Linked DNA regions of Homo sapiens: region 2 is linked to region 1. The links come from fine-mapping of genetic effects on gene expression. A gene starts in region 1. The other region holds a variant in brackets. All regions are shown on one strand. Distances are between the middles of the regions.

Evidence for each region. PIP is the estimated chance that this variant, and not a neighbour inherited with it, causes the effect.
Region 2: its variant is fine-mapped to the expression of MAEA in whole blood (TOPMed, PIP above 0.99).

Annotation. Positions count from the first base shown.
Region 1 is chr4:1,279,895-1,294,708 of GRCh38, reverse strand. It overlaps MAEA (macrophage erythroblast attacher, E3 ubiquitin ligase), which reads right to left and starts at 4,818. Exons shown (of 9, transcript NM_001017405.3): 1 at 4,727-4,818. The coding sequence starts at 4,795. LOC105374347 (a long non-coding RNA gene) reads left to right here and starts at 5,138. Exons shown (of 3, transcript XR_925046.3): 1 at 5,138-5,824; 2 at 7,501-7,583; 3 at 8,261-8,345. LOC105374346 (a long non-coding RNA gene) reads right to left here and starts at 7,106. Exons shown (of 2, transcript XR_925043.3): 1 at 6,986-7,106; 2 at 6,415-6,683. RefSeq lists silencers at 3,237-3,419, 4,508-4,787, 4,888-5,297.
Region 2 is chr4:1,323,768-1,338,581 of GRCh38, reverse strand. It overlaps MAEA (macrophage erythroblast attacher, E3 ubiquitin ligase), which reads right to left. Exons shown (of 9, transcript NM_001017405.3): 5 at 10,879-10,955; 6 at 5,717-5,825; 7 at 1,588-1,721; 8 at 1-160. Among named protein-coding and RNA genes, the nearest start is that of UVSSA, 16 kb to the left of the region's middle. RefSeq lists enhancers at 11,509-12,708, 13,883-14,814. The variant G/A (reference allele first, on the strand shown) is at 7,978.

The sequences.
Region 1 (14,814 bases):
CTCCCACCGGAGCGTAGACAGGGGCCTCACTTGTCTCCCCATCATGCTAGCCCAGGGCCTGACTGTGCAGGGCCTGACCGTACCTGGCCGATGGAGGCTCTCAGACCACTGCTGCGGAGGGGGGTATGGGAGAAGCTAAGTGCACCTGCAGCCCTGCTCTGCAGCCCGGCGGCGGTGCCTTGCTTAGGTCCCAGGGCCGCTCCAGGCCTCACGTCAGTACTGCCTCCAACCTAGCCCAGCCATTACGGTGAATCAGGCATTAAAAAGCACTTTCTTGACTTGAAATGTGTTAAAAAAATAATACTTAAAAAAACAAAAACAAAACCAACCCCCCAGCTAGCAGTGAATTCAAGTCTACATCCTTATCTCAGCCTTGCCCAACCAGCTGGAAAGGCCCAGGCCTGGGAGGGAAGACCTGTGCCAGCGCGGAGGCCGCGGAAGCCAGCCCAGGGCCAAACCACCAGCAAACGGTGGGAGAGGCGAGGGGAGTGGAGCTGGGAGCCACAAAGGGCAGACCATGGCTCTTCTGGGCAGAAGGAATTTCCACTGTGCTCTAGAGACCGGGCGGATTCTGGAGGGCTGTGACGTTACTGCAGATAAAGTACATCGAAAAAGCCGGCCACAGAAGAGGTGGAGACCCGGCCTAAGACTCCTCAGACACGGCATCACCAGGGTCCAACCCAATGTGTGTGTCAGTAAGTCAAACGCTTCGTGGTTGCCTGTGTTTCTCACACTCGAGAACACATGATCCTCCCAAATCCAGCCAAGATGGAGTGAAGAAAACTACAAAAGGCGCAGGAGCAGTTACAACTTCAGCACACAGCTGGCACCCGAACTCCCTACCACAGGCACAGACCCAGGCTGTGAGGCATCAGGGCCATGCCTGGGCAACCAGACTGTCATCAAACCAAAGGCAGAACATGCAAATCTTCCTGTAGAGAATTCAGACACCTGAGAATGCAACCACAAGCCCGGTGTTTCTCAGCCTGTCCTCTGGGGAGAGGACAGCATCACCACCTTGGGTGTGAGAGGACTCACTGGAGCTGGGAACCCTTGCTGGGGCTCCAGGAGAGGAGAGGTGGGCCCAGGTGGGGTTCACAGAGAGGAGCCAGGTCCAGACCAGGGTCTCCAGGTGATGAACACCACTTCCCGCCCTGGGCTGTGCAGACACCCATGTGAAATTCTCTAAACTATTATTTTTCTTCGGCTATCTGAAGGGAAATAGTAGGAGTAAATACACCAAAATGTTAATGAAGTTCTCTCTGTGCAGCAGGGTAACTTGAAGAAAAAACAAATTACTTTTATTTATTTATTATTTGAGACAGGGTCTCACTCTGTCACCCAGGCTGGAGGGCAGTGGTGCAATCTCGGTTCACCACAGCCTGGATCTCCTGGCTCAAGTGATCCTCTCGCCTCAGCCTCCCAATTAGCTGGGACTACAGGCGCACACCACCGCACCCAACTCATCAAATTACTTTTATAATCAGAAAAAAAAAAACCTTTTACAAAATAATGAAAGCAAGGGCTTCCAATTCAAGATGGTGAACTATGCATGTTGAATTGAAAGATGGTGAATTCCTGAGGTCAGGAGTTCAAGACCAGCTGGACAACATGGAGAAACCACGTCTCTACTAAAAAATACAAAAAATTAGCTGGGCATGGTGGCGGGTGCCTGTAATCTCAGCTACTCGGGAGGCTGAGGTAGGAGAATTGCTTGAATCTGGGAGGCAGAGGTTGCAGTGAGCTGAGATTGTGCCACCGCGCTCCAGCCTGGGCAACAGAGTGAGACTCCGTCTCAAAAAAGAAAAAAAAAAAAAAAAAAGATGGTGAGTTATTCATCTTTCCCCTCCCCCACAAGGCATTACCCACCACCCTACACCGGACGGCGTTCACAGCATTTGACAGCAAAAAGACACAGCCACAGCCAGGACGCAAGGCTGAGTCCTCATGAGCCACACCTCCGTTTGGTAAGAGGAAGAAACAAGTCCCTTAAAGCAGGATCCAGCCCAGCAATTCTCAGGGGTGTGTGCATGCCCCCAGGGCACATCTAGCAATGTCTGAAGACATTTTGGGGGCATGCTCTTGGCATCTGGCAGGCAGACACCAGGGATGCTGCTAGACATCCTAGACTGCACAGCCCCCACCACCGACAAAGGCTCCTCCAGCCCAAACGTTCGCAGGCCGGTCCACCCCTTTGGTGGAAATAGAAGCTCATGACGACAGAGGTGCCCAAGGTCAGTGCGTGTTGGCTGCAGCAATTCACGTCTGTTCCATTCTCTTCCCACTTCACCAGGAAAATAGAAAAATAAGTACCTGCCAGGCACCCAGGAGCCCCACCAGCCGCCCTGACGCTGTGAGGAAGCAGACATCCCAAGTGTTACTGCTGAAACCCACCTAGGGCTACCAAGCCCTCTGAAGAGAAAGGAATCCCCTGTGAGTCTGTGGAGGACTCACATGGCAGGAAAGCAGTTTAACTATTACCAGGTGAAGATCCAGTCCAGAGCATGCCAGCTGCTACCACCCTGCAGGAGGACTTGCTCTCAGACTAGAGAAGCAGAACATCCACCCCCCACCTTCCACAACCCCGGTCCTGCAGCCCTCGGTCCCTTCTCTGACATCTGCACTGGCCCCTCCTGGAAACTGAAGAGTGCAGCTCTTGAGCTGTGAGCTCAGCATGTTCTGTTTAGTTCTATACCAATAAATGCTTCTAAATCAAGGATCCCTAGTTTCCCAGCAAAACACCTCCATTATCCACTAGGAATCACTCCTGAAAACTTCTATGAAAAAAAGTTTTAACTCAGTAGTGACACAAGTGTCAACAGAGAAATTATGACACTATAATATTTCTTTACCTGTATGACTATCTGCATGACTATTTTAATCAGAAGCTATGCAATCACTCTGGAATACAAATTACATTCACGATTACAAAACAGCAGAAGACCTGAAGAAGAATCCTTTCCGGAGACCTTCCATCTCCCTTCCTAGTTCCTTCAATACACAATGAAAGGATTTCTGGAAACTTTTCCTATCTAGTGTTTCCCACATTCACCAGCCAGTACCAGAAGTGACAAACCACCACGGTTCTGATCTTCAAACCTTCTTGTGTGTTAGCTGAAATGACAGGCCTGGAGGTGCACTGCGTGAGACAAAGTGGTCAGTGGTTAGGACTCCCTACTAATATCACCACAATGTCCTTGTATAGACTTCTCTCAGCTGCAGGGTCTCCATCTCTAAACCAACAGAGATCCACCAATGTCACTGAGTATTAAAAACCAACCACCTACATCTTGGAGGGATCTAGCAAGAGGCTAGACCTTTGGTAACGTCAGCAACATTGCCCTCCCTTCCTTGATCAAAAGAAGTGCTGGACACACAAGCACCATGAAACCCCACTGCGAAACCATTAGTGTGGCGGGCGCGTGGCTCACACCTGTCAGCCCAGCGCTTTGGGAGGTCAAAAGGCAGGAGGATCGCTTAAGTCCTGGAATCCAAAACCACCCTAGGCAACAGTGAAACCCCGTTTCTTTTTAAAAATATGAAATAAACCGCTAGTTAATAAAGAGGAGGAGAAGCTTGCTTCTGCTTTCCTATGAAGACCAGCTACAGCAGGGTACAGCCTGACTTCAGCAGCGCTAACTGTAGCAGGGACCTTTTAATGAATGCTAGGCACTGTTTGAAACAATACGTGGTCACTCATTTCACCCTGAGGTGACACAGGCGCTACCACTGCTTAAACCTGACAAGAATAAACAGTCACCAACCGGGCCCTGATGTCTCCCAGTAAGGACGAATACAGAGAAGCCTGATTCACACCCCAGCAGGATGGCTCACAGCCTGTGCTCTTCAGCCCTTCGCTGAACTGCCCTGGGGCTGGGGGAACGCACAGCAACCTGGCCATACTGCATCCTCCACACCTGTCGCCACACCGTCCGTCCTCAGACGGACGTGAACACCAGGGCGCTCTGGGAGGAGAGAGAAACTACGCAGCTCTCCAGGAAGGCAACACAGAACCACGAAGCTCAGCCGCAGCTCTAGGAAAGCTATGACCTTGATCTTTTAAGGAATTCCTTCCCAGGTGCTTCATATCAAATCCTCTACTAACTAGGTAAAGAACAAGTATCGGCTCCTTCTACTAGGAGCACAAATTTCATTCTAAGAAGTGCGACGTGGCTAGGTGACCACCCAAGGTCACGCAACCGGCAGCCGGACGGCAAGAGCTGTATTTCAGGTTTGGTGACGCCCATCAAAAAGGTCGCTGGGTGCCATCAGGCCGTGAGGTTTCTCCCTACAGTTCCTAACTAGCGACCGGCGCAGCCGGCACCTCCCAGCCCTGGGCTCCCGGGAGGGCGGCCGGGCACTGGCTGGGCACGCCGCGCACTCCGTCTGCCTGGGCGCCAGAGACCCCACGCCCCGCAAACTCCGGCTTCCACCCCAGCCCCAAATTCGCCACCCTTAGCGCTGCCAGAGTCGTCGCTGGCTCGGCTCACGCAGCTCTTCAAGCAGAGGGGCCACAGTCGGGCGCCTGGCAGGGCCAAAGCCGCCGCCCCCGCCACACCTGCCCGGCGCGGACCGGGCGCCCCTGAGAAGCCCGCACGGCCCCGCGAGGCCGCGCCCAGCTCCCGCCGCCCTCGCCGCTGGCCCTCCCGGGGCGGCCCCTCGCGGCCCGAGGGCACTGGCTGGAGACGCCTTCGCTGCCCTCAGCCTGCGCGGCGCAGGCGCCCACCTTGAGGGTCGGGTACTCCTGGACCTTCAGGGTCATGGACAACTGAGCCGCCGACTCCTGCACCGCCATCTTGAAGCGGCCAAAACATTAGCGGGCGGGGGACGCGCGAGCGCGCTGCACGCCGGGAAATGACGCCACGCGCCGGCCGGAGCAGGATGGGGGCGGGCCGATGCCCCTGCACCAATCGTATCCGCCCAGTCGGCCGGAGGCGGAAGAAGGCGCGAACCAATCACTGCCGGGTTTCCTCTCGTTCAGCCAATCAACGATAGCCCCGGCTGGCGGTTTCCACCTTGAATTCGCTACCGGGTTCAGGCCGCAGACGCCGGAGCTGGGGATGCTCCTGGCCCGGGGCGGGCCGATGGGGTGCGGGCTGCGGCCCGGGCGGGTGGAGCTGGGGCCGAGCGGGCTGGGGGACTTGGCGTCCGTCCAGTTACTTGGGGCTCCCGCGGGGTGGTCCCCTGTGGGTCCCTCGTGCCTGCGGTACCAAGGGCAACGCCAACAAAACGCCTGGCCGCATGCGCCTGTAGCCAGCTATTTTTCTTTGGCCTTATTTTGACCGATTTACAGCTGCTGGAATCCTGATGTGGAACCTCCGACTTCCCAACGGAAGAGGAAAGGCCCAGTACCTAAAACTGATTTATGGACAGAAACTCCCGAAGCATGAGAAGCGTGTGGCCTCTCCGCCCTCTCCTTGCAGGGCGGGCAGCGCTGGCATCCAGGTCGTGCGCTGCCTTCATTTCAGCCACTTCACATTCTCAGCCTTTCAAACACCACCCGTCTCCCTCCTTTCCAAAATAAAACTGAAATTAGATTTTATTAATTAGGAAATGACGTCCCAATTAAACCACCTTGTGTTTCACATAACACATTTCTAAACAACTTTTAAAATATTTGGTGTTTAAACAAAGGAAAAACATCTAAGGTGACACAGCGATGAAGGGAGAACCTCCGCTTGGAGGCTGCTACATGTTACAGCCGCAAGACATCCGACCCGCACTGTGGAATCTTTCTCTGTCTTACTTAAACAGGAGTTGGGACTAAGGAAAGTGTTATTCCTCAAGTGTGTGGCTGCAGACTCCAGTCTTTTAGACATTTGAAGTAAGTTTTACAGTGAGGTGCACAAATCTTAACTATACAGCTTTAATGAATTTTCACCCATATTTGCACTTTTATCTAACCGTGTCCTGGTTGAGATTTAGGACATTTCCCGTGGCACAGAAAGCTCCTCTGCCCCTTCCCGGGCTATATCCCCATCATTCTAACCCTGCTCCCCGTAACAGCGTTCCTGACCTTCCTATAGAGATGGAAGCATGCACTCTGTACTCTTTGCGTCCTTTCACGGTTCGCATCGTGTCTGCCACTCTCCGGGATGGTCCCAGTAGTACACAGGAGCACTGCAGCAGTTGGATGGACTGCACTCCTCTTAGAGACTGCCTTCACTTCACCAGGGATTCAAGATTAACCCAAAGGAAAGGACACGGGTTTCATTTCCATGGTAAAATGATCCTATCCTAGTACCATCTACAGTCAGAAATACTTAGGAATTATAAGGCAGAGGTTTGCACGTTGGAGAGGTTGTTTAACCCTCTACAACCTTTGAGTCATTCATTCTAGGTTTTCTTATGTTGGAAGATAAAACTGTATTTGAATTAGTCCTTTTGTAAACCAAAAAGTGTCTGAGACAGATCTCAATCAGTTTAGAAGTTTATGTTGCCAAGGTTAAGGATCATGACCAGTGACACAGCCTCAAGAGGTCCTCAGAACACATGCCCAAGGTGGTTGGGTTACAGCTTGATTTTATACGTTTTAAGGAGATGTAGGCATCAATCAGTACATGTGAGATTTACATTGGTCCGAAAAGGCAGGACAACACAAAGCACAGCGGGGCTTCCAGCTCACAGGTGGATTCAAAGATTTTCTGATTGGCATTTGGTTGAAAGAGTGCTTATCTAAAGATCTGGAATCGAGAGAAAGGAGCATCTGGGTTAAAAGGGGTTGTGGAGACCAACGTTCTTATTACATAGATGAAGCCTCATAGGTGGCCACCATTAGAAGCAATAGATGGCAAATGTTTCATATCTAGATCTTAAAAAGCTGCTAGACTTGGCCGGGTGCTGTGGCTCACGCCTGTAATCCCAGCACTTTGGGAGGCCGAGGCGGGCGGATCACGAGGTCAGAGATCAAGACTATCCTGGCCAACATGGTAAAACCCTGTCTCTACTAAAAATACAAAAATTAGCTGGATGTGGTGGCACTCACCTGTAGTCCCAGGTACTTGGGAGGCTGAGGCAGGAGAATCACTTGAACCTGGGAGGCAGAGGTTGCAGTAAGCCAAGATCACACCACTGCACTCCAGCCTGGGTGACACAGCGAGACTCCTAAAAAAAAAAAAAAAAAAAAAAAAAAACAAGAGCTGCTAGACTCTCAGTTAACCATTAACTTCTTCAGAATCAGAAAAGACCCGGAAAGGAAGGGCAAGGGATTCCCTACAGAATGTAAATTTCTCCCACAAGAGACAGCTTTGCAGGGCCCTTTCAAAATATGTCAAAGAAATATATTTTGGGGTAAAACACTTTGATTTCCTTCAAGGCCAGCTATCTGTCATGTGATGCTCTACTAGAGTCAAGTTGGAATTTGGCATCTTATTGCTACAGAGTCTGTTTTGTCAGTCTTAAGATCTCTGTTTTAATGTTAATGCTGGTAAGTTTTGTGCCTGAACTCGAAAGGGAGGAGGGGATACTGAGGCATGTCCAACTCTCCCTTCACGTTAATAGTGGCAGGAGGCAGACCGAGCAGTTACCCAGTGAAACCCGACCTTCAAGCCGAAGACAGTTTAAAGCCGACCTACAAGTCCCAGGTAAATCCATGGACTAGATTGGGAACCTGTCTTCCTGCCTGGCATGCTTTCCTCTGATTGGTCCCCACCCTTCACCTATTTTACATATACCTATCCTTCCCTAATTGGCTTTTTGTTTGTTGGTTGGTTGTTTTTTTGGTTTTTTTTTTTTTTGAGATGGAGTCTCGCTCTGTCTCCCAGGCTGGAGTGCAGTGGCACGATCTCGGCTTACTGCAAGCTCTGCCTCCCAGGTTCACGCCATTCTCCTGCCTCAGCCTCCCGAGTAGCTGGGACTACAGGCACCCGCCACCACGCCCAGCTAATTTTTTTTGTATTTTTAGTAGAGATGGGGTTTCACCGTGTTAGCCAGGATGGTGTCAATCTCCTGACCTTGTGATCCACCCACCTCAGCCTCCCAAAGTGCTAGGATTACAGGCGTGAGCCACCGCACCCAGCCCCTAATTGCTTTTTACACTGTTGTCCCCACCTTTGAGTGATGCCTTTGTTTTAGCCATTTTTGCATCCTCACAAACCAATCAGTGTGCACTCTGAGCCCATGAAAGCCCCAAACCCAGCCACATGGAGAGAGAAACCATCCGACTTCAGGTGGGGGACCACCCTCACATCCCTGCTCCACTGAGAGCTGCTTTGTCACTCAATAAAATTCTTCTCCATCCTCCTCACCCTTCAATTGTCAGTGTATCATCATTCTTCTTGGACGTGGGACAAGAGCTCAGGATGCACCAAATGTGAATACAGAGAAGGCTGTAACTCCATAACCCTTTGCCCTTCACCAGCAGAGGGCAGCCACCCCATGTGACAGAAGCAGCAGTGGGACTGAGCCAGCCCTGGAGCCATGGGCTGATGCGGGGCAAGCGGCTGACAGAGCTGTTGACGCACCACTGTCCATCAGGATGCAGACTAAAAGAGCTAATTAGCATGCTGTAACACCCCCTCTGGGGCTTCAGGATCACAGCACCCCTACCTGGGCGCCACCGTGTTCCCCTTGTCTGGACGCCGGAGTCCACCATGGGAGTGGCTTGCAACATGCCTGGTCCAGCCACAAGCCCTGCATGGAGCCTGCGTCTGTGCTGACACTTGGAACCGTTGGCTGGACCCCGCACTCACTCGCTCACACCCCCTCCCACTGGGGGCTGAGTGCACAGTCGGAACAGCCGCAAACGCTGGAGTGCGGGCCTGGCATGACATGATGGGCCAAGTGAATGGGCATCTCCTGTGGCAAACCTGGGCCTGAGCAAGGGTGTCGCTGGCTGGGGGTCTCTGGCTGACAAGTGACCAAGAAAAGTCATGCGCCGCCATCGTGTCCTGAACTGATTTTTCAGGTTTCTTTGAAACCCCCTTGGCTGAAGGTGGGGGTAGGGGGTTCCATTCAGTCAGTTGGGGGAGCTTAGTATCTTATTTTTGGTTTATATAACTTGAAATTGTCCAGCTGTCAGACTCTGCCACCAACTGGCTATCCTACAATCCAACCCCATTCACACTCACTCGCAGAGTTAGCACAGACCCCACAGGCCAAGGGCTCCGTTCCACAAGGCTGTCCCCACTCCAGGTGACGGCTGCACATGGGGTGCCCAGGCCACCCACAAGGCAGATGACACATTTGGGGCTCCCACAAACCCTTCCTCAGGTTCAATAATTTGCTAGAATGACTCACAGAGCTCAGGAAACACTTAATGCTTCCCAGCTTATTATGAAGGACACAGCTCAGGAATAGCTAACGGGAGTGCATCGGGCATGGTGGGGCGAGGAGCTCCCAAGCCTTCTCTGCGCGGCAGCCGCTCAGCACTTCGGGGCATCCACCAGCCAGGAGGCTCTCCTGAATCTCATTATTCACACATTTTCATATCTCAATCCCCAGCCCCCCTCATCCCCAGAGGTGGAGGTGGAGTGGGAGAGGGGCTGAGAATTCCTGCCAACCAATCTCCGGGTCTTTCTAGTGATATCTGGAGGCCCCACCCAGAGTCACTTCATTAACATAAACTCAGGTGTGGTGGGAAGGAGTTCCTTATGAAGAAAGAAGACGCTCCCACACTCAGGAAATCGCAAGGGTTTTAGACACTTGGTGACCGGAACCAGGGACCAAGACCAAATATACTTTTTGTCGTAGTATAGCATTCAACAGCTGCCATGTTCTGCGTCTCTTGGTTCAAACTTCCAAAATCTTAGGCTCCAAAGTCTTGCCCAGTGTGGGTTGGCTGTCCATCTGGACTAATCAGCTATGCCAGGGATGAGCTGTGGGGCACACGTGGTTCCCTTGTGTGGGTGGGCCAGGAGCACGCAGAGAAAAGCAGCCCAGAGACGGATGGTGCTGGGTGCCTCCTGCATGGCCGTGTGGGAGGACCTGACCTGTGGCTCAGGGACGCACTGTCATAGCCAGCTCACATCACATGCTGCAGGGGGTCCACATCCTGGGGCCCTTCTTATCTCCACTGATGGACGGACGTCAGGGCTCTGCTACTTAAAGGTAACCCCCTCAAGTTCGAGGGGGTGACTCTGCCCCAAGCTGCACGACACAGCCCTTCCTCTCACCCAGCCAGATCCGTTTTCTGCGCTGGAGTTGCCCCTGTCGTTATTTTGATCCACACATCTCTTAGGAGGTGGTTAACACCTGCTGAAAAACTTAATTCTTGAATGAATGAAACATGTACCTCACATCAGGTAACAAGATTTTACACAGTTCACTGTTCTGTTGGTTTTTATTTATTTATTTATTTATTGAGACAGAGTCTTGCTCTGTCACTCAGGCTGTAGTGCAGTGGCACGATCACAGCTCACTACAGGCTCTACCTCCCGGGCTCAACCGATCCTCTCACTTCAGCCTCCTGAGTAGCTGGGACTACAGGCATATGCCATCATGCCTAGCTAATTTTTAAAGTTTTTTTGCAGAGACAGAGTTTCACCATGTTGCCCAGGCTGGTCTCAAACTCCTGGGCTTGAGCACTGACTGTTTTGTTGGTAAGAAAATAGCATCTGATTTTCCCTTAAAAGTATTTAGTAATACAAACTATAATTAGTTCCTATGGTTAGCTGTAGAGGTGGAATCGACTCAAGCCACACAATTGTTATCTTCACAACATCTGTTTGTAAATGTCTCCAGTAAAGGCCTCCCGGCTCCCTGGAGGAGGAGGCCGGACACCTGCCAGTGCTGGACGGTGGCCTCCCTGCTCCCAGGTGGGGCCCAGCCAAGGTGAGTGCTTGAGGTAGCTTCGGTTGGGCCAAGCATCTTTTCCTCTGGATAAATACCCAGTAGTGGAATTGCTGGATGGTAGTTCTACTTTTAGTTTTTTGAGAAATTCCACTGTTGGTGGAGGGACTTCCCACTGTTAACCGGTACAGCCATCACTAATGTACACGCCCACCCACCGTTCCCACGGTTAACCAGTACAGCCATCACTATTGTACACACCCACCCACCGTTCCCACGGTTAACCGGTACAGCCGTCACTAATGTACACACTCACCGTTCTCACTGTTAACCGGTACAGCTGTCACTAATGTACATGCCCACCGTTCTGTTAACCGGTACAGCCGTCACTACTGTACATGTCCACCCACCATTCCCACAGTTAACCAGTACAGCTGTCACTAATGTACATGCCCACCGTTCTGTTAACCAGTACGACCGTCACTAATGTACACGCCCACCCACTGTTCCCACGGTTAACCAGTACAGCCATCACTACTGTACACACCCACCCACCGTTCCCACAGTTAACCGGTACAGCCGTCACTAATGTACACACTCACTGTTCTCACTGTTAACCGGTACAGCTGTCACTAATGTACACGCCCACCCATTCCCACGGTTAGCCGTCACTACTGTACACACCCACCCACCATTCCCACGGTTAACCAGTACAGCCGTCACTAATGTACACACTCACTGTTCTCACTGTTAACCGGTACAGCTGTCACTAATGTACACGCCCACCCATTCCCACGGTTAGCCGTCACTACTGTACACACCCACCCACCGTTCCCACGGTTAACCGGTACAGCCGTCACTAATGTACACACTCACTGTTCTCACTGTTAACCGGTACAGCTGTCACTAATGTACATGCCCACCGTTCTGTTAACTGGTACAGCCGTCACTACTGTACATGTCCACCCACCATTCCCACAGTTAACCAGTACAGCCGTCACTAATGTACACGACCACCGTTCTGTTAACCGGTACGGCCGTCACTAATGTACACGCCCACCCGCTGTTCCCACGGTTAACCAGTACAGCCATCACTACTGTACACACCCACCCACCGTTCCCACAGTTAACCAGTACAGCCATCACTAATGTACACGCCCACCCACCATTCTCACTGTTAACCTGTACGGCCATCACTAATGTACACGCCCACCCACCGTTCCCACTGTTAACCGGTACAGCCGTCACTAAAATACACGCCCACCCACCGTTCTCACTGTTAACCGGTACGGCCGTCACTAATGTACACGCCCACCCACCGTGTGTGAGAGCTCCCTTTCCTCAGCATCTTCAGCAGCATCTGTTATTTTTTGTCTCTCTAATAAGAGCCCGTGTAACTGGGGTAAGATGACGTCTCGTCGTGGTGGTGACTTGCCCTTCCCCGATGCTTAGAGGTGCTGAGCATTGTTTCATACACCTGTTGGCTGTTTGTCTGTCTTCTTTTGAGATATGTTTATTCCCAAAATAGACATTTCTATTTTGGGGGCTAAAAGTGCCCTCAGGCCACTTTCTAGTGGGATTTTTTTTTTTATTGTTGCTTGAGTTCCTTGTATACTCTGGATTTTAGTCCCCTGTTGGATGAATAGTTTGCAAATATTTTCTCCCATTCAACAGGTCGTCTCCACCCTCTGTTGACTGTTTCCATCATAGTGGGTTTTTTTGGGTTTTTTTTGAGATGGAGTCTTGCTCTGTCGCCCAGGCTGGAGTGCAGTGGCACAATCTCAGCTCACTGCAGCCTCTGCATCATGGCATTTATTTTATTTTATTTTATCTTATTTATTTATTTTTTGAGTTGGAGTCTCACTCTGTCGCCAGGCTGGAGTGCAGTGGCGTGCTCTCGGCTCACGGCAACCTCTGCCTCCCGGATTCAAGTGATTCTCCTGCCTCAGCCTCCCGAGTAGCTGGGATTACAGGCGCCCACCACCACACCCGGCTAATTTTTGTTTTTTTGTTTTGTTTTGTTTTTAGTAGAGATGGGGTTTCACCATGTTGGTCAGGATGGTCTCAATCTCTTGACCGTGTGATCCACCCACCTCAGCCTCCCAAAGTGCTGGGATTACAGGCGTGAGTCACCGCGCCTGGCCCACATCATGGCATTTTTAAAATTCATCATTTAATGTCATTCTAAGTAAAGAAAAATAAGCAGTTATTCACACGAATTGTAGTGTTCATCGTCACCTAACGCTAGTTTTATTTTTTATTTTTATTTTTATTTATTATTATTATTTTTGAGACGGAGTCTTGCTCTGTCACCCAGGCTGGAGTGCAATGGTGCAATCGTGGCTCACTGCACCCTCCACCTCCTGGGTTCAGGCGATTCTTCTGCCTCAGCCTCCTGAGTAGCTGGGACTACAGGCGCCCGCCAACTATGCCCGGCTAATTTTTGTATTTTTAGTAGAGAGGGGGTTTCACCCGTGTTAGCCAGGATGGTCTTGATCTCCTGACCTTGTGATCCGCCCGCCTCAGCCTCCCAAAGTGCTGGGATTACAGGCGCGAGCCACCGCACCCAGCCTGTCCAACGCCAGTTTTAAGTGCAAACATAAGCAAATCATAGTGTTCACCATCATTTGTCTGACGCCAGTTTTAAATGCAAACGTAAGTGCTTTAGTTCGAACTCTGCGTCACCAAACTCACGAGGCCTGTGCTTCCCAGCTCGATTGCACAGACCTGTTTTGTTCTTCTTCATGGAGTGCTGCATGAAGCTAATGCAGCTGTGATTTCATTTCTGATGTGCACATATTTTACCAATGCCCTCTACTTTTACTGACAAGTAAGGGGTGTCTGGAGGGAAAAGGAACTGTGGGTTGCCTCATCTTTCCTCCTGTCCACCATGTTCAGCACACGCAGTTCTAACGTGAGGAAGTCCCATGCGTAAGAAGTACATGATGGGGTATGTGTTTCTTGGCACTCCCCTGTTTCTTTTGTGTTTATAGCATGTTCTGGTTCAAACAGAAGGCATGGCCTCTCTGGACTTTGGGGCCACTGCTCACTCCGTCCTGGATGTGACACCCTCACTTGCACCCACTGGAAACCTTGCTGTCCTTCCACACCTCATGGACCCCTCAGAATTCTGTGTTCGTGGGGAACTACCCATGCTCTATGCAGCTGGGGTGCCGGGAACAGGTGCAGATGGGATGTCTCTCACCGTTGACCATCTTGTATATGCAAGATTTGGGGTTTTTTTGAGACAGAGTCTCGCACTTTTGCCAAGGCTGGAGTGCAGTGGTGCAATCTCTGCTCACTGCAAACTCTGTCTCCTGGGTTCAAGCAGTTCTCCTGTCTCAGCCTCCTGAGTAGCTGGGATTGCAAGCACACGCAGTTCTGATGTGAGGAAGTCCCATGCGTAAGAAGTACATGATGGGGTATGTGTTTCTTAGCACTCCCGTTTCTTCTGTGTTTATGGCATGTTCTGGTTCAAACAGAAGGCATGGCCTCTCTGGGCTTTGGGGCCCCTGCTCACTCCGTCCTGGATGTGACACCCTTACTTGTATTTACTGGAAACCTTGCTGCCCTTCCACACCTCGTGGACCCCTCAGAATTCTGTGTTCGTAGGGCACTACCCATGTGCACCACCACACCTGGCTAATTTTTGTATTTTTAGTAGAGACAAGGTTTCACCATGTTGATCAGGCTGGTGTCAAACTCCTGACCTCAAGTGATCCACCCGCTTTGGCCTCCCAAAGTGCTGGGATTAGAGGTGTGAGCCGCCTTGCCCGGCCGTATCTGCAGATTTGTTTCTTGAATTAAATTGGGAAAAGTTCCAGTTACGATTTCTTTTTTTTAATTTTAATTTATTATACTTTAAGTTCTGGGGTACATGTGCACAACATGCAGGTTTGTTACATATGTATACATGTGCCATGTTGGTGTGCTGCACCCATTAACTCGTCATTTACATTAGGTATATCTCCTAATGCTATCCCTGCCCCATCCCCCTCACCCCACGACAGGCCCCGGTGTGTGATGTTCCCCACCCTGTGTCCAAGTGATCTCATTGTTCAATTCCCACCTATGAGTGAGAACACA
Region 2 (14,814 bases), 44 kb before region 1:
GGGCGGATTGTTCTCGTTCATCACGTCGCCAGAAATCTTGCAGACCAGGCGGGAGTTGGCACAGTGGGCCATGGGCAGGGGCTGCGCCAGCTTGTTCAGGGAGCGGCTGCACACAGGGCAGTCAGGGCTCTTGGAGCTGCCGTCCTCCTTGTAGCACTGTCTGAGCATCGGGTCAAGGAAGGGTTGGGGGCCACTCAGGGCAGCCGGGGTGAGCCCAGCCCCCTGTGGCCACTCTGCCCTGGGCTGCGTGCCCTTCTGGCTATGTGGGCGCCATGCTGACTACACGGGGCTGTCTTTCGAGGCACAGGAAGTGCTGCACTCGACAGCTAAACAGCCCCACTGAGGCCTCGGTGGAGACAAGAAGCCTGCGCCTTCTCACCCCGGCCTCCAGCACCAGGACCACAGGCACAGAGTGGCTCCGTCGCCCGCCGCCCTCTCCCCGGCCACGCAACCTCTCCAGGCAGGACAAGAGCCACCCAGCAGGGACGTTCTGCTGGCACCTAGGAACAGGCAGTGGGCAAGCACGCCAGCCCTCTCGCCCAGAGTTCCACAAAGAGGGGACAAGGGAGGGGGCCTGAGTCTCATTCATACCCCGGCACAGCCAGGTACCAGCAGCAATCGCGAAACACTCACTGCCCTCTGGGCCTGAGGCAGGTCACATGAAAGACATTCATAGGCGGGGACAGAGTCAGTTGCAGGAGGACAGTCAGTCACAGGTGGGGACAGAGTCAGTCACAGGTGGGGACAGAGTCAGTCACAGGAGAGGGCAGAGTCAGTCACAGGCAGGGGTAGAGTCAGTAAGAGGCTGAGTCACAGGCAGGACGGAGTCAGTCACAGGTGAGACAGTCACAGGGCAGGGGCAGAGTCAGTCACAGGCGAGGACAGAGTCACAGGCGGGATGGACTCAGTTGCAGGAAGGGACAGACTCAGTCGCAGGCAGGGGCAGAGTCTGTCACAGGCAGGAAGAAGTCAGTTGCAGGTGGGACAGAGTCAGTCACAGGAAGGAATCAGTCACAAACGGGACAGACTCAGTCACAGGCAGGGCCACAGTGAGTCGCAGGCAGGGACCAAGTCCGTTGCAGGCGGGAGCCGAGTGAGTCACAGGCAGGAACTCAGTGAGTCGCAGGTGGGACAGAGTCACAGGCAGGATGGAGTCAGTCACAGGCAGGGACAGAGTCACAGGCAGACAGAGTCGGTCACAGGTGGGACAGAGTCAGTCACAGGCGGGACAGAGTCAGTCACAGGCAAGGTTCTTGGTAATCACACGGGAAAACTATTCTGAATGGTAATCTGCCGGCTGCCAGAACACATCAAAATCGGGCTTTTAGATCAATGCCCATGGCGGCCTCTGAGATGATGAGAGAGGAAGCGCGCCACTTCCCAGAGTGAAGGCTGCACGACGCATCCGAGGCCCCTCAACACGGCCCCACCCCGACCATCCAGACACCACGCAAGTGCAGCACACGGGAGCTCGGGGCTGTCTGTGGTGGGAGGACAAGAGTGGCAAGGTGCAGGGTCAGCGTGTTAAAATATGACCAAAGATGCCAACCCCAGGCCAAACCGCACTGCGCACGGGAGGTAGGATACGGTGTCTTGATGGCTGAGAGGCCAGCCTGCAGGGTGAGGGTGAACACAGAATTGTTTCCCAGCTGGTGTAGTCGGTAGTTGTCGTACCGGAACTGCTGGATCAGCATCCGCCACCGTGCAGGGTCCAGAAGGTCCTGGAAGACAGAGAGCAGAGGGTCCTGGGGATGCTCCCAGGGAAGCTCCTGGGACAGCTTAAAAACGTGGACCATGGTGAAGCAGGTGCCATCGGCCCACAGCCATCCCCCAGTGACCCACACACTTTGCACTAAGGGTCAGCACAAAGCATAACTCCCTCAAGTGTTGACTGATACACACAGTGGGATGAGTGCTGACTTAACTATGATTTCAACATGCTGCGGGATGAGTGCTGACTTAACTCTGATTTCAACATGCTACAGGGTCAGTGCTGACTTAACTCTCTGATTTCAACACACTGCGAGGCCAGTATGAACTTAACTCTGATTTCAACATGCTGCGGGACAAGTGCTGACTTAACTCTGATTTCAACACACTGTGGGATGAGTGCTGACTTAACTCTGATTTTAACATGCTGTGGGGTGAGTGCTGACTTAACTCCGATTTCAACATGCTGTGGGGTGAGTGCTGACTTAACTCTGATTTCAACACACTGTCGGGGGAGTGCTGACTTCTCTGATTTCAAAATACTGTGGGGCCAGTTCTGACTTAAGTCTCTGATTTCAACACGCTGTGAGGCCAGTGCTGACTTAACGCTCTGATTTCAACACCTGCAGGACAAGGGCTGACTTAACTCTGATTTCAACACTCTGCGGGACGAGTGCTGGAACTCTCTGATTTCAACATGCTGCAAGGCCAGTGCTGATCTAACTCCCTGATTTCAACATGCTGCGGGATGAGTGCTGACTTAACTCTGATTTCAACACACTGCAGGGCAGGTGCTGACTTAACTCTGTGATTTCAACACACTGCAGGGCAGGTGCTGACTTAACTCTGTGATTTCAACACACTGCAGGGCAGGTGCTGACTTAACTCTGATTTCAACACACTGCAGGGCAGGTGCTGACTTAACTCTGTGATTTCAACACACTGCAGGGCAGGTGCTGACTTAACTCTGTGATTTCAACACACTGCAGGGCAGGTGCTGACTTAACTCTGATTTCAACACACTGCAGGGCAGGTGCTGACTTAACTCTGTGATTTCAACACACTGCAGGGCAGGTGCTGACTTAACTCTGTGATTTCAACACACTGCAGGGCAGGTGTTGACTTAACTCTGTGATTTCAACACACTGTGGGGCCAGTGCTGACTTAACTCTGTGGTTTCAACACGCCATGGGGCCAGTGCTGACTTAACTCTGTGATTTCAACACACTGTGGGGGCCAGAGCTGACTTAACTCTGTGGTTTCAACACGCCATGGGGCCAGTGCTGACTTAACTCTGTGATTTCAACACACTGTGGGGCCAGTGCTGACTTAACTCTGTGGTTTCAACACGCCATGGGGCCAGTGCTGACTTAACTCTGTGATTTCAACACACTGTGGGGCCAGTGCTGACTTAACTCTGATTTCAACACACTGTGGGGCCAGTGCTGACTTAACTCTGATTTCAACATGCCACAGGGCTGGTGCTGACTTAACTCTGCTACACTCACTTGTGAATCAACTTGAATGATCTGGAATGTGTGCAACCTGTGCACTGTGACAAAAAATAGACTCACACAGCTGGAAGGACAGCTCAGTGCAGAGTGCACCTCAGAGCATTAGGTGTAAAAACTCTTACTTCAGAGAAATCATGTATGAAATGGAAAACAACCGGTCCATGTTAGGTTAAAGCATCACAGAACAGAAAATTAAACCTGATGAATGTCTGTCCCTAAATAACCTCAGGTTTAGACTTAAGAGAGAGAGCGTGTGTGAGCACAGGAGAGAAAAACCTTCACATCAACCCAGAAAGGCCGCTCAGTCTCTAGCTTGGGGGGAGACGGCCACACCTGGAGGGAGGGGAGGTGGTCATCAGGGGACGTCACCCATCAGTCTCTGTAAGCTTCTCAGTCTCAGTTTAGGGTAAACACCACACTTAACTCCAACATTTTTAAAGGCTGTTTTAAATCTCATTTTTGTCTAAAAATCAAAGTCTACAAGGGAGGAAGCCCACAGTCCAGAAGGTCCTCACTGAGAAGAACAGCTCCTGGCATCCTCACTCCCCAGGACTGGTTGCCTCTGGGCTTCTGGTGGCTTCTGCCATTCTCTGAACAAAATGCTTCCTTCTGTTTCTTGCCTGACCCATGGCAACGGGGCCCATTTTCCTGCCACGAGACACGGTTGTGCCCCCTGAATCTGGCAACAGATGAGCCTTGGGGCTGGCACTGCCTGCCTCCCTCTTTACCACACTGCAGGGCTGCGTCCGGTGAGAGGTGCATGCTCCACCCGGCCTAGGCCCGAAGTCTCAGCCCCCTGTATGGGTCAGCCTTTCCTGCATTTCTAACAAAATCCTCTCCAGAGCAAGCGAGAGAAACAAGGTGCCAACTCACAGTCTGGGAAGCTCAGACCCCACCCCTGAAGATCCTCGTGACCTAATGATGATTTATTATGAGATGCCCCAAACGCCTGAGAACCAGGAGAATTCAGGCTGAGCTTCCAGCAGCTTTCAGAAGGCAGCAGGTCTGGGACTGCCCAGGGCTTTGCAGTCCCTACAGGGTGGCAGGTGGGGGCTGCCGGGAAACACCCCGGCCTCTGACAGAGACTGGTGCCAGGCTCAGAGAACAAACTGTCAACTCCAGGAGGTTTTATCTGCTTCCCCCTTTTCCAGGAACTGAAACTGTTCCCAGTGTGATGAGCACAGGGGTGGGCATGGGGGTGGATGCAGGGGTGAGCACATGGTGGGCATGGGGTGGGCATGGGGGTGAGCACGGTAGGCATGGGATGGGTGCAGGGGTGAGCACACGGGCATGGGGGTGGGTGCAGGGGTGAGCACATGGTGGGCATGGGGTGGGCATGGGGGTGAGCACGGTAGGCATGGGATGGGTGCAGGGGTGAGCACACGGGCATGGGGGTGGGTGCAGGGGTGGGCACATGGGCACGGGAGTGGGCATGGGGGTGAGCACAGGTGGGCATGGGGGTGGGCATGGGGTGGGTGCAGAGGTGAGCACGGGCATGGGGGTGGGCAGGGGGGTGAGCACACGGTGGGCATGGGGTGGGTGCAGGGGTGGGCACATGGGCACGGGAGTGGGCATGGGGGTGAGCACAGGTGGGCATGGGGGTGGGCATGGGGTGGGTGCAGAGGTGAGCACGGGCATGGGGGTGGGCAAGGGGGTGAGCACACGGTGGGCATGGGGTGGGTGCAGGGGTGGGCACGGGTGCAGAGTGGAGCCACTCACCCAGGAGCAGCCAGCTGCTGGGTTGGGGCCAGGTCTGAGCACAGGGTGCCTGGTTAGTGATGGCAGAACCCCCAACCCTACCCCAGTGACCGCGGAGAGTCGGAGGCTCCAATATTTACAGATAAAATACAAAGCGTCAGCAAGAGAAAGAACCACGGAAGACGGTGCAGCCTAACTCCTGACTCAGGGGCTGTAGAGAAAGGAGAACCAGGGGGACAGGCAAGGAAGCTGGGCCCCGGCTGAACGCTCCAGGCTGAAAGGCTTCCTGAACCTTTCTCAACTGCTTTTTTTTTTTTTGGAGACAAGGTCCTGCTCTGTCACCCCAGCTGGAGTGCAGTGGCACAATCTTGGCTCACTGCAGCCTCAACCTTATGGGCTCAAGTGATCCTCCCACCTCAGCCTCCTGGGTAGCTGGACTATAGGCAGGTGCTACTATGCCCAGCTAATTTTCAAAAAAATTTTTTTTGTAGAGGTGGGGTCTCACTATGTTCCCCAGGCTGTTCTCAAACCCCTGGGCTCAAGCAGTCCTCCCACCTCAGCCTCCCAAAGTGCTGGGATTCCAGGGGTGAGCCACCACACACAGCCCTGATTCAAATTTCTTATGAGCAAAATGGGAGTCAAACAAGAAAAGCTTGTCTTGGCAGGCTGGACAGGCTGTGTGGCTGGGATGGGGCCCTCACGTCCCGCCCCACGTGTGGAAGCAGCTACAGACCAGAGACACACCCTGGATCCCCACCCCAGCATGACACCGACCCCAGGGACGCACGCCCTACCTTGTACGGGGAGATGTGCGTGTCGGGCGGGAAGGCCAGCATGCCCATGGCCTGGCGCACCTCGTCCAGCTGGCTCCCTTCTGCTTGGCTGAAGTGCTTTCTTGCATGTCTAAAAAACAACATTTTGGCACATTTAAGTTTGCGTTTTAATTTTAACTTTTAGAGACAGGGTTTCACTCTGTCACCCAGGCTGCAGTGCAGTGGCACAGTCACAGCTCACTGTAGCCTCGAACTCTCAGGCTCAGGCGATCTTCCCGAGAAGCTGAGACCGCAGATGTGCAGCACCACACCTAGCTAATGTAAAAAACATCTTGTTAGAGACAGATTCTCGCTGTGTTGCCCAGGCTGGTCTCCAACTCCTGGGCTCAAGCCATCTTCCTGCCCCGGCCTCCCAAAGTGCTGGGATTATAGGCATGAGCCGCTGCACCCGGCCTGCATTTTTAAGTTGAAAAATCTGAGCTAACAGCTTTTATGTCAGAGTCTAGGTACAAAGTAATCGCCTCACTCCAAGCCGACCTGCTGGGTGGGGCTGGGATGGCGGGAGGTGCGGCTCACCAGAGGCTGGAGGAGCAGCTACCAGACACTCCTTCCTCCAGGGGACCAGGGCACCCAAGCCACACAGACAACCCACGGAAAACACCAGAACTGCAAATGGCACCTGCCCCCGAGGGCTCTCCAAAGCGATTCTGGTTTACAAGGAACCCAAACCCTGAGGATTCCCACTCTCCCCAGATGCTCGCCCCCACGGACCCCGTGGCCCCAGCGGACCAAGAACGTGTAGTCTTCTCAACTGCAGTCCTTGCTGTTTGGCAGTGACGCCCAGCACAACCTTCCGAAGAACAGCCTCCCTCAGCCCACAGGCTGGACTCCCTGCAGATCCGGCCCAGCCCTCTCAGCCCTGAGCGTGCCACACACCACATGCAGCCACGATCTTTCCTGAGCCAACTCTGCGGGATGCACACAGGCCTACTCCAGGCCAGAACCCCACTCCAGTCTAAGGCTGGGCAACCAAGAAACCAAAGCAGAACATAACAGATCCCTTTCAAGCTGACCAGCGGGCACCTGCTCACCCCCAGGGCCCCCATTCTCATGCCCCCCCCCACACACAGGGTCACTGTCCCTCTGGCTGTCCTGAGGGCCTGCACCCCCATGTCCTGACCCTCACACGGGCCCCTGTGCACCCCACGTTCTCAGCCCTCAGGGCCCCTCTGCCAAAGCGACCCCAATGCACAGAACCAGGGGCCTCAAGTCCCATGTGTGAGTCAGCCCTGTGCTGTCCAGAACAAGGCATGTACCAAGGAACACAGGGCTGAGGAGGTGCCAGGCGCTCACGGTGGCCTTGGAGAAGATGCAGTGTCTCGCAGAGACTGGAGTTAGTGTAGGAGGTGGCCCAGCAGCCCCTTGATGGATAGCACGGGGACCACGTGTTGGAAGCACCACCAGGAGAGCCCGGGGCAGCAGGGAGTGGGGGGCGTCCACGCTTGGGACCCAGCCTGGGGAGTCCACATGGCTGACGCCCCAGGGCCTGTGCAGGGCCTGGGAGTCGGGGGTGAATCCACACGGCCGACCCCGCAGGGTGCATACAGGGACTGGGAGTCGGGGGTGAGTCCACACGGCTGACCCCGCAGGGTGCGTGTGCAGGGGCTGGGGACGGCCATCCGAGATTCCAGTGCCCATGCATCCCCCTCCTTGGAGCGTGTGGGTGGGCGTGGGTCTGAGTCCAGGAGGAGCCCCACCCAACCCCCTCATTCCATCTCTGGAGACAAGTCACCCTTCGTCACACGCCAAGACGTGCACAGAACACGGCCAACGGGCATCTCACCTCCTCCCAGAGCTGCTGAAGAGAGGAAATTTAATCTCCGTGGTTGACATCTACAAGATCTCATTTGCATGACCTGGTTTACGCGTCTTATCTCACCATCAATCAAACCCCAGACAGACATCATCCGCCTAACAAGCTGCCTCACCTCGCACCCCAGGTCCCTGATCCACAAATCCTGACCCCAAGACAGAAACAGAAAACCTAACAGTGGCGGCTGACTCTTTTCAGATCGTTTGATGCCAGCATTCAGCCCCAACACACAGAGAACTGCAGCCGAGATGTGGGGCCCTCAGAGCAGGTCCGGGGAGAACAGCACGGTATGCATCCACAGGACACAGGGGAAACAAAACCGTGACTTTTAACAAACTAAATGCAGCTAACATAAGAAACACAAAAACTTCCATTTTTCTTTAAAAATATAAACACACGGGCCAGGCAC[G/A]GTGGCTCACGCCTGTAATCCCAGCACTTTGGGAGGCCAAGGTGGGCGGATCACAAGGTCAGGAGTTTGAGACCAGCCTGGCCAACATGGTGAAACCCCATCTCTACTAAAAATACAAAAATTAGCCGGGCGTGGTGGTGGGCGCCTGTAATCCCAGCTACTCAGAGGCTGAGGCAGGACAATCACTTGAACCCGGGAGGCGGAGGTTGCGGTGAGCTGAGATTGTGCCAGGCAACAGAGCAAAACTCAACCTCAAAACACACACACACACACACGGAAAGAGAGAGAGAGAGAAACACCCAGAAGACAAAATTCCTAAACTGTGCCTGGCCAGGCTGAGGTGTGGGTGTGCGACAGACGGCACGGAGCTGCTCACACAAAGCCCATGAAGTACAGGCCAGGTCCCAGCCGCCTGGGGTCAGGGATTCACTTACTCATTTACTAAAAATTAAAGGCGTTAAAAGTTAATCACTAGCAGCTCATACTTTTGCATTTCGCAAAAACCCACAAATGCCCCAGGCAGGGCGGAGCTGCAGCCACCCCAGCCAACGAGGCCCCCTGCCCGGCCCAGCACGCTGGCTCCACAGACAGCAGGACTCACCTTGCCTGCCCCAGTGGACCCAGAGGCTAGGCTGCTGGCCTCAAGCCCTGTAGATGGTGCCCGACGCTCCAGCGCCATGTGGACCGTGAGTTCAGAGGTGGACGGGAAGCTCCTGCGGGCTGGGACCCTGGCAGCAGGTGAGAGGGCCCTGCCTGGAGCCCTCAGGAGACATGTGGCCAGGCTTCTCCGCCTTCCCTCTTGTCCAGCCTCAGTGAGTGATACACAACACCCTCTGGGCTCCCAGCCAAACACCCGCACTCCCTCACCCCACAAACGTCCTGCCGATGCCCCACCTGCCACCCCAGCCCAGCTCCCGTGTGCCTTGTGGGTGGCTCCAGGGCCACGCTGAGCTGAGGCCGGACTTCCCTGACCAGGCCCTGGCACCTGGAGAACCACTCCCAAGACGGCCCCAGCAGAGGATGTAGCTCACACTGCGCCTGCCCCCGAGACACTGGGGTGTTGTTTGCCATGCCTGCCCGGCTGGCTGCTGAGGCTTCGAGGCAGCACGTGTCTGCTTGCGGGAGGAAGGACACGCACTTCCTGGGACCTGCCTGCTCCCCTGCAACAGACGAGGCCGCAGAGGGCACAGCTCTGAGCTCGGCTCAGACATTATGAGGTGGAGGCCCCGCGAGTCTCTAGGGCAGATTCTACCCAGAGCAGGGGGAACAAGGCAAAGAGACCCTACACGGAGCGGGGGGAACACAGGCAAAGAGACCCTACGCGGAGCGGGGGGAACACAGGTAAACAGACCCTACACGGAGCCAGGGTAACACAGGCAAATAGACCCTATGCGGAGTGGGGGTAACAGGTCAACAGACCCTATGCGGAACCAGCTGCCACCTAGATGAAGACATCTGTGACGGAGGGACTCCGGGATGGACACGTTTTGTTTTCAGACTCCAGGGCTGACAGTGGCCGGGGCCCTCAAGGAGACGGAGGCTGACTCGGGATGGAAGCAGACTGCCGCCGGACAGAGGCCAGCGACACAGGCACCGAGGCCACACGGAGGCCAGAGCAGAGCGGGAGCCCCTCCTCTTGACAGGGGGCCCCTGGCCGTGTCCCCGCAATGCTCACACGCCACTCTCCACTGGCCCGGGTCCCGAGATCCCCGCTTTAGCCCTCTCAGGCACAGAAGGGACCTCGTTGCAGGCCTGGCTCCCTCGTGCGTGAAGACGAGGCCTGACCTGCCACCATGCGCCCAGGTCAGCATCAGGAGCCGGAGCAGGACCCCGGGCCTCTCCAGGGTCCACGCAAGGGCAGGGACTTGCCGCGGTTCTGCCGTGCGTCTTGGGGACCACCCTCAGCACCTCATCGTGAGACGCCCACTTCTCCAAATGGGCCTTCTGTGGAACACTCGGCCACCCGGCCCACTGCAGGTGGATATGGAGTCGCGGTCGGGTTTCTGTGGGCATGGACAGGTGCCCCCTCCTGGCAAACACACCTGCTGGGCACTCGCCCGGGAGCTGAGGGCCAGCCAGGCCCACACACCCCACACAGCAACTCAAGCGTCACCGCAAGGCTTGGCCGCTCAGGAACCTCCATGAAAGTGAGTGAGACGACCTAGCACTCAAGGAGCAGCCCTGCCCCGAGACGGGGTGAGCATGAACTGGCCGACACTGCCCAGGCCAGGGACCACTGCTGCCTGACGATGCCCACTCTGGGGAGCCAGCGGGAAGCCAGCGGACAGCCTCTCTTCCTTTGCAGACGCCGTGCACCCCAACTGGGCTGAGCCACAGTGACAGCCAGCATCCCCTTCTCAGGCCTGACCACCAGGGCGCCGCTGGCCTCAGCTCACTGCACGCCGCCCTTGGGTCGGAGACAGGCCGGAGAACCCAGAAGTGCCCTCATCACACGCTGTCAACATTCCCCGATGACTGTGAGGGACATTCCCAAGCTCAGGACGCTTGGAGCTACCTGAGGACCACACGTCAGAGACACTCCCATCTACTGAGGCTGGCGGCACTTTCCAATGTGGAAAGGGGGTGCCGGGAGCCTGATCCACGTGTTTTACGTGGACGGTCGGGACCTCAAAGCTGGTTCCCCTGGCAGCCACGGGGGTCTGGATGCCCACCTGGGGCCACACCTTGGCGGGGGCCCTGCCAGGCTCCAGGCCTCACTCCCCAAGTCCCATTCAGGAACAGTGGGAGAAGCAGCCACCTGAGCAGGCAGGGGTCAGACTCAAGACCCAGGGGACGACCCAGGGGACGTCCCAGGACCCAGACCACGACAGGGAGGGCTGGCAGGGGCCGCAGCCGAACATCCTGCCCTCCCTCGAGGAGACGCACGTCCGCAATGCCTACCTCACAGCGTCCAGTCTCTTATTCTGCCGGATGAGTTCAATGAACTCCTGGATTCTGAGGCTGAACTCCAGGCAGCTCTGAGGGCAAAGACAAGACGAGGGCTTAGACAGCACATCCCACAGAGCCCAGGTGCCCGGGTGCCGCACCCGCATGTCCACCAGCAGACCCCACAACCAAAGCTCTGAACCCCTCTCTCACAGGCACGGGGAAGGCAGGGCTGAGGCTGAAGCTGCCACTTTAACCTGCAGCAGACTTTCCAGGGAACACTGGGTTCTGAATGTGAGTCCCGCCCCCTGCTCCTGCAGCTGCGGTGGGGCGTGCAGCCGCCCAGCATTTCAACCCGAAGGCCAGGGCGCTCAGGGCGCTTCCAGGAGCACAGCTGGGAGGGCAGAGCAGCAGGTGCAGCTGCTGGAGCAAAGGCACCAACCCCTCTGCAAGGACAAAGCAGCTTCCTGGGTCCCGCCCTGAGGCCACTGCTTCCTCTACACTCCCACCGGGCCTCTGGACCCAACTATCCCGAATGTAGACTGGGTGCTGGCTTGAACCCGGGGCTGTTCTGGGAGAACGTGGGCAAGTCCTGTCCCGAGGCGCTGATGCCCCGGGTGGGGAGGAGACAGGGACCACATGTGGGGCTGCTGGCTGGTGCCTCACAGGGGCATGAGGCAGAGAAGCAAGCTTGGAGCAGGCAGGACCCAGGTCGGCAGGGCGGGGAGGAGACAGGGACCACATGTGGGGTTGCTGGCTGGTGCCTCACAGGGGCATGAGGCAGAGAAGCAAGCTTGCAGCAGGCAGGACCCAGGTCGGTAGGGCGGGGAGCGCCTGCACCGAGGTTATGGACGGGGGACCGCACAGACACCTGGCGAGAACATGGCGGGCAGAAGCCGGGGCCGGTGCCGAGGCCCCAGGCGGGTGGCACATGGAATGGAGGCCTGGCCCAGGGGACACTGAGGTCCTAGGTGGCTGTGAGGCCAAGGGGCGGCTCGCGTGAAGGGAGGGCGCTTCCAGGATGTGTAGAAGACGGAGAGAGGCCGAGTTGGGGCTGCTGGCTGAAGGCACTATGCCTGAGGCAGGGGCGGGGGTGGGGGAAGCTCCTGCAGGACCAAGTCCCACATGTGTCTGCCTATGAGCCTCTCACGTGCACCTAAGGGAAGCCCAACCCTCAATCTGAAATCTCAGCAACCTCAGTCCAACGTGGGCCGAGACTTGTGGCTGGGGTGGGGGCAGCGGCAACATTGACCGCAGTCATCCAAGATGAGACGCGGATTCTACGGAAGTGACATGTCCGTCTAAACCGTAAGATCTTCCGTGTGGTTTCAGGACATTCTCAGGGCTTCACCCCGGAAACAGGATATAGGCGTGGGCACCACGGAGCGAGTCTTGGGCTGGGGCCGCGTGTCACTCTGGGTTCACATGGCCTGGCTCTCAGGACGGCATGAACAGAAACTCCACGTGGCAGATGAATCCACCCCGGACCACTGCATTTAAGTTGAAGCTCATCACTTCCGCTTCCCAGAGCTTTCCCCACTGAGCTTTCTGAGGAGCCACCTGTGCTCCAGCCCACCCCGCCTGCCAGCCTTGCTGCCCCGACACGCATAGCACCCACAGCAGTGGCTCCGCGTGGGTGTGGGGAGGACTGGGCTGCCCAGACCCCCGGGGGCCACCTGCCTTCCAGGGGCTCAGAGGGGCTCAGGTCCCTGCCCTGCTGCCTCTGCCCTGTACCCTCAGCCCCTCATCACCCTGTGTCCCTAGACAGACGGGTCAACAGGCTGGACGCAGAACTCACAGGCTTGCTCCAAGCTGGGGCAGGAGGACTGTCTCTGACCCCAGCAGTGGCACAGGCTCTGGGTGGGGAGTGCCAGGCTTGGTACAAATCAGCCGAGAGGCACAAAGTCATCCCAGGGTCCCGAGTCCCCACCCCACTAATCAGCAGGCAGACTTCGGTCAGCACTCCGCTCCCTTCAGAGCCAGCCTGGCAGGAGAGGAAGGGAAGGGCCAGCGGGAAGAGATAGAGGCTCCCCACCAGGGCCCCACCTGCCTCCCAGGGGCTGCCTGATGGCTGCCGTGTCTAGAGCAGGCGAGTGCCGGGGCTCTGTCTAAAGGCAGGACGCAGCTGCCGAGGGGGTGCTCTAGAAGAGCAGGACTCTGGGCCCACTCTAGGTTACCGCTTCACACAATAGACACCTCAAACCTGCTTTTCAATAACACCTTTTGCTCTAGTAGGTTACTTTCAATTGGTCCACTAATATGTAAGTGTGTCTATGTCGTGAAACTTAGGTATTCAGACCCAAATCTAAAACACCGAGTCTACACTGTCCCATACGGCGTGGAGCGCCAACAAGGCTGTGCCCGCCCTGCGACAGGCGCCCACACTGATGGCTCCGTGTGGCTTTCGCACAGACGTGCAGCAAACAAATCACTGCTTCAGGGGCCTTCAGGGCCACTCACCCACCCATGCCTGTGAAATCCATCTCTCAGCCAGGTCAAACTTGGGTCTCAAGTTTCTTTTCCCATCTAGGTTCTCACAGCTGGTCCCAGGGACCCGTTAGAGCACAGTCTGGCTCCTCCTTGCCTCCCCACACACCCCCTGGCGTGCGTGCACATGTGAGCAGACTGCACAGACAGCCGTGTACCCCAACTGGCTCGGCCGCATCTCGTACCGGGCATGTTTTCGTGTCATTTGGAGTCTTCAGGGCGCATTTCTGGACAGCATCTAAATATGGATTCAGGCCCCGTCCAGTCTCGACTTCATCCAACACCAGGCACGCTCATCCAATCTCAACTCATCCAACACCAGGCACGCTCATCCAATCTCAACTCATCCAACACCAGGCACGCTCATCCAATCTCAACTCATCCAACACCAGGCACGCTCATCCACCAGGCATCCAATCTCAAATCATCCAACACCAATCTCAACTTTATCCAACACCAGACACACTCATCCACCAGGCATCCAATCTCAACTTCATCCAACACCAGACACACTCATCCACCAGGCATCCAATCTCAACTTCATCCAACACCAGACACACTCATCCACCAGGCATCCAATCTCAACTCATCCAACACCAGGCACGCTCATCCAATCTCAACTCATCCAACACCAGGCACACTCATCCAACCTCAACTCATCCAACACCAGGCACGCTCATCCAATCTCAACTCATCCAACACCAGGCACGCTCATCCACCAAGCATCCAATCTCAACTTTATCCAACACCAGGCACGGTCATCCACCAGGCATCCAATCTCAACTTCATCCAACACCAATCTCAACTTCATCCAACACCAGACACACTCATCCACCAGGCATCCAACCTCAACTTCATCCAACACCAGACACACTCGTCCACCAGGCATCCAATCTCAACTTCATCCAAACCAATCTCAACTTCATCCAACACCAGACACACTCATCCACCAGGCATCCAATCTCAACTCATCCAACACCAGACACGCTCATCCACCAGGCATCCAATCTCAACTCATCCAACGCCAGGCACACTCATTGACCAGGCATCCAATCTCAACTTCATCCAACACCAGACATACTCATCCACCAGGCATCCAATCTCAACTTCATCCAATACCAGGCACACTCATCCACCAGGCATCCAATCTCAACTCCATCCAACACCAGACACACTGATCCACCAGGCATCCAATCTCAACTTCATCCAACACCAAGCACGCTCATCCAATCTCAACTCATCCAACACAAGGCATGCTCACCCAATCTCAACTTATCCAACACCAGGCACGCTCATCCACCAGGCATCCAATCTCAACTTCATCCAACACCAGGCACACTCGTCCCCCAGGCATGCATTCAGGGCCCCGAGTCCTGGCCCTGCCTGTCCCCACAGCAGCTTCAGACAGGTCGTGTGCTCGTGGCAAGCCTCCAACACCCTCCAGCAACACTGTCCGGCAGGTAA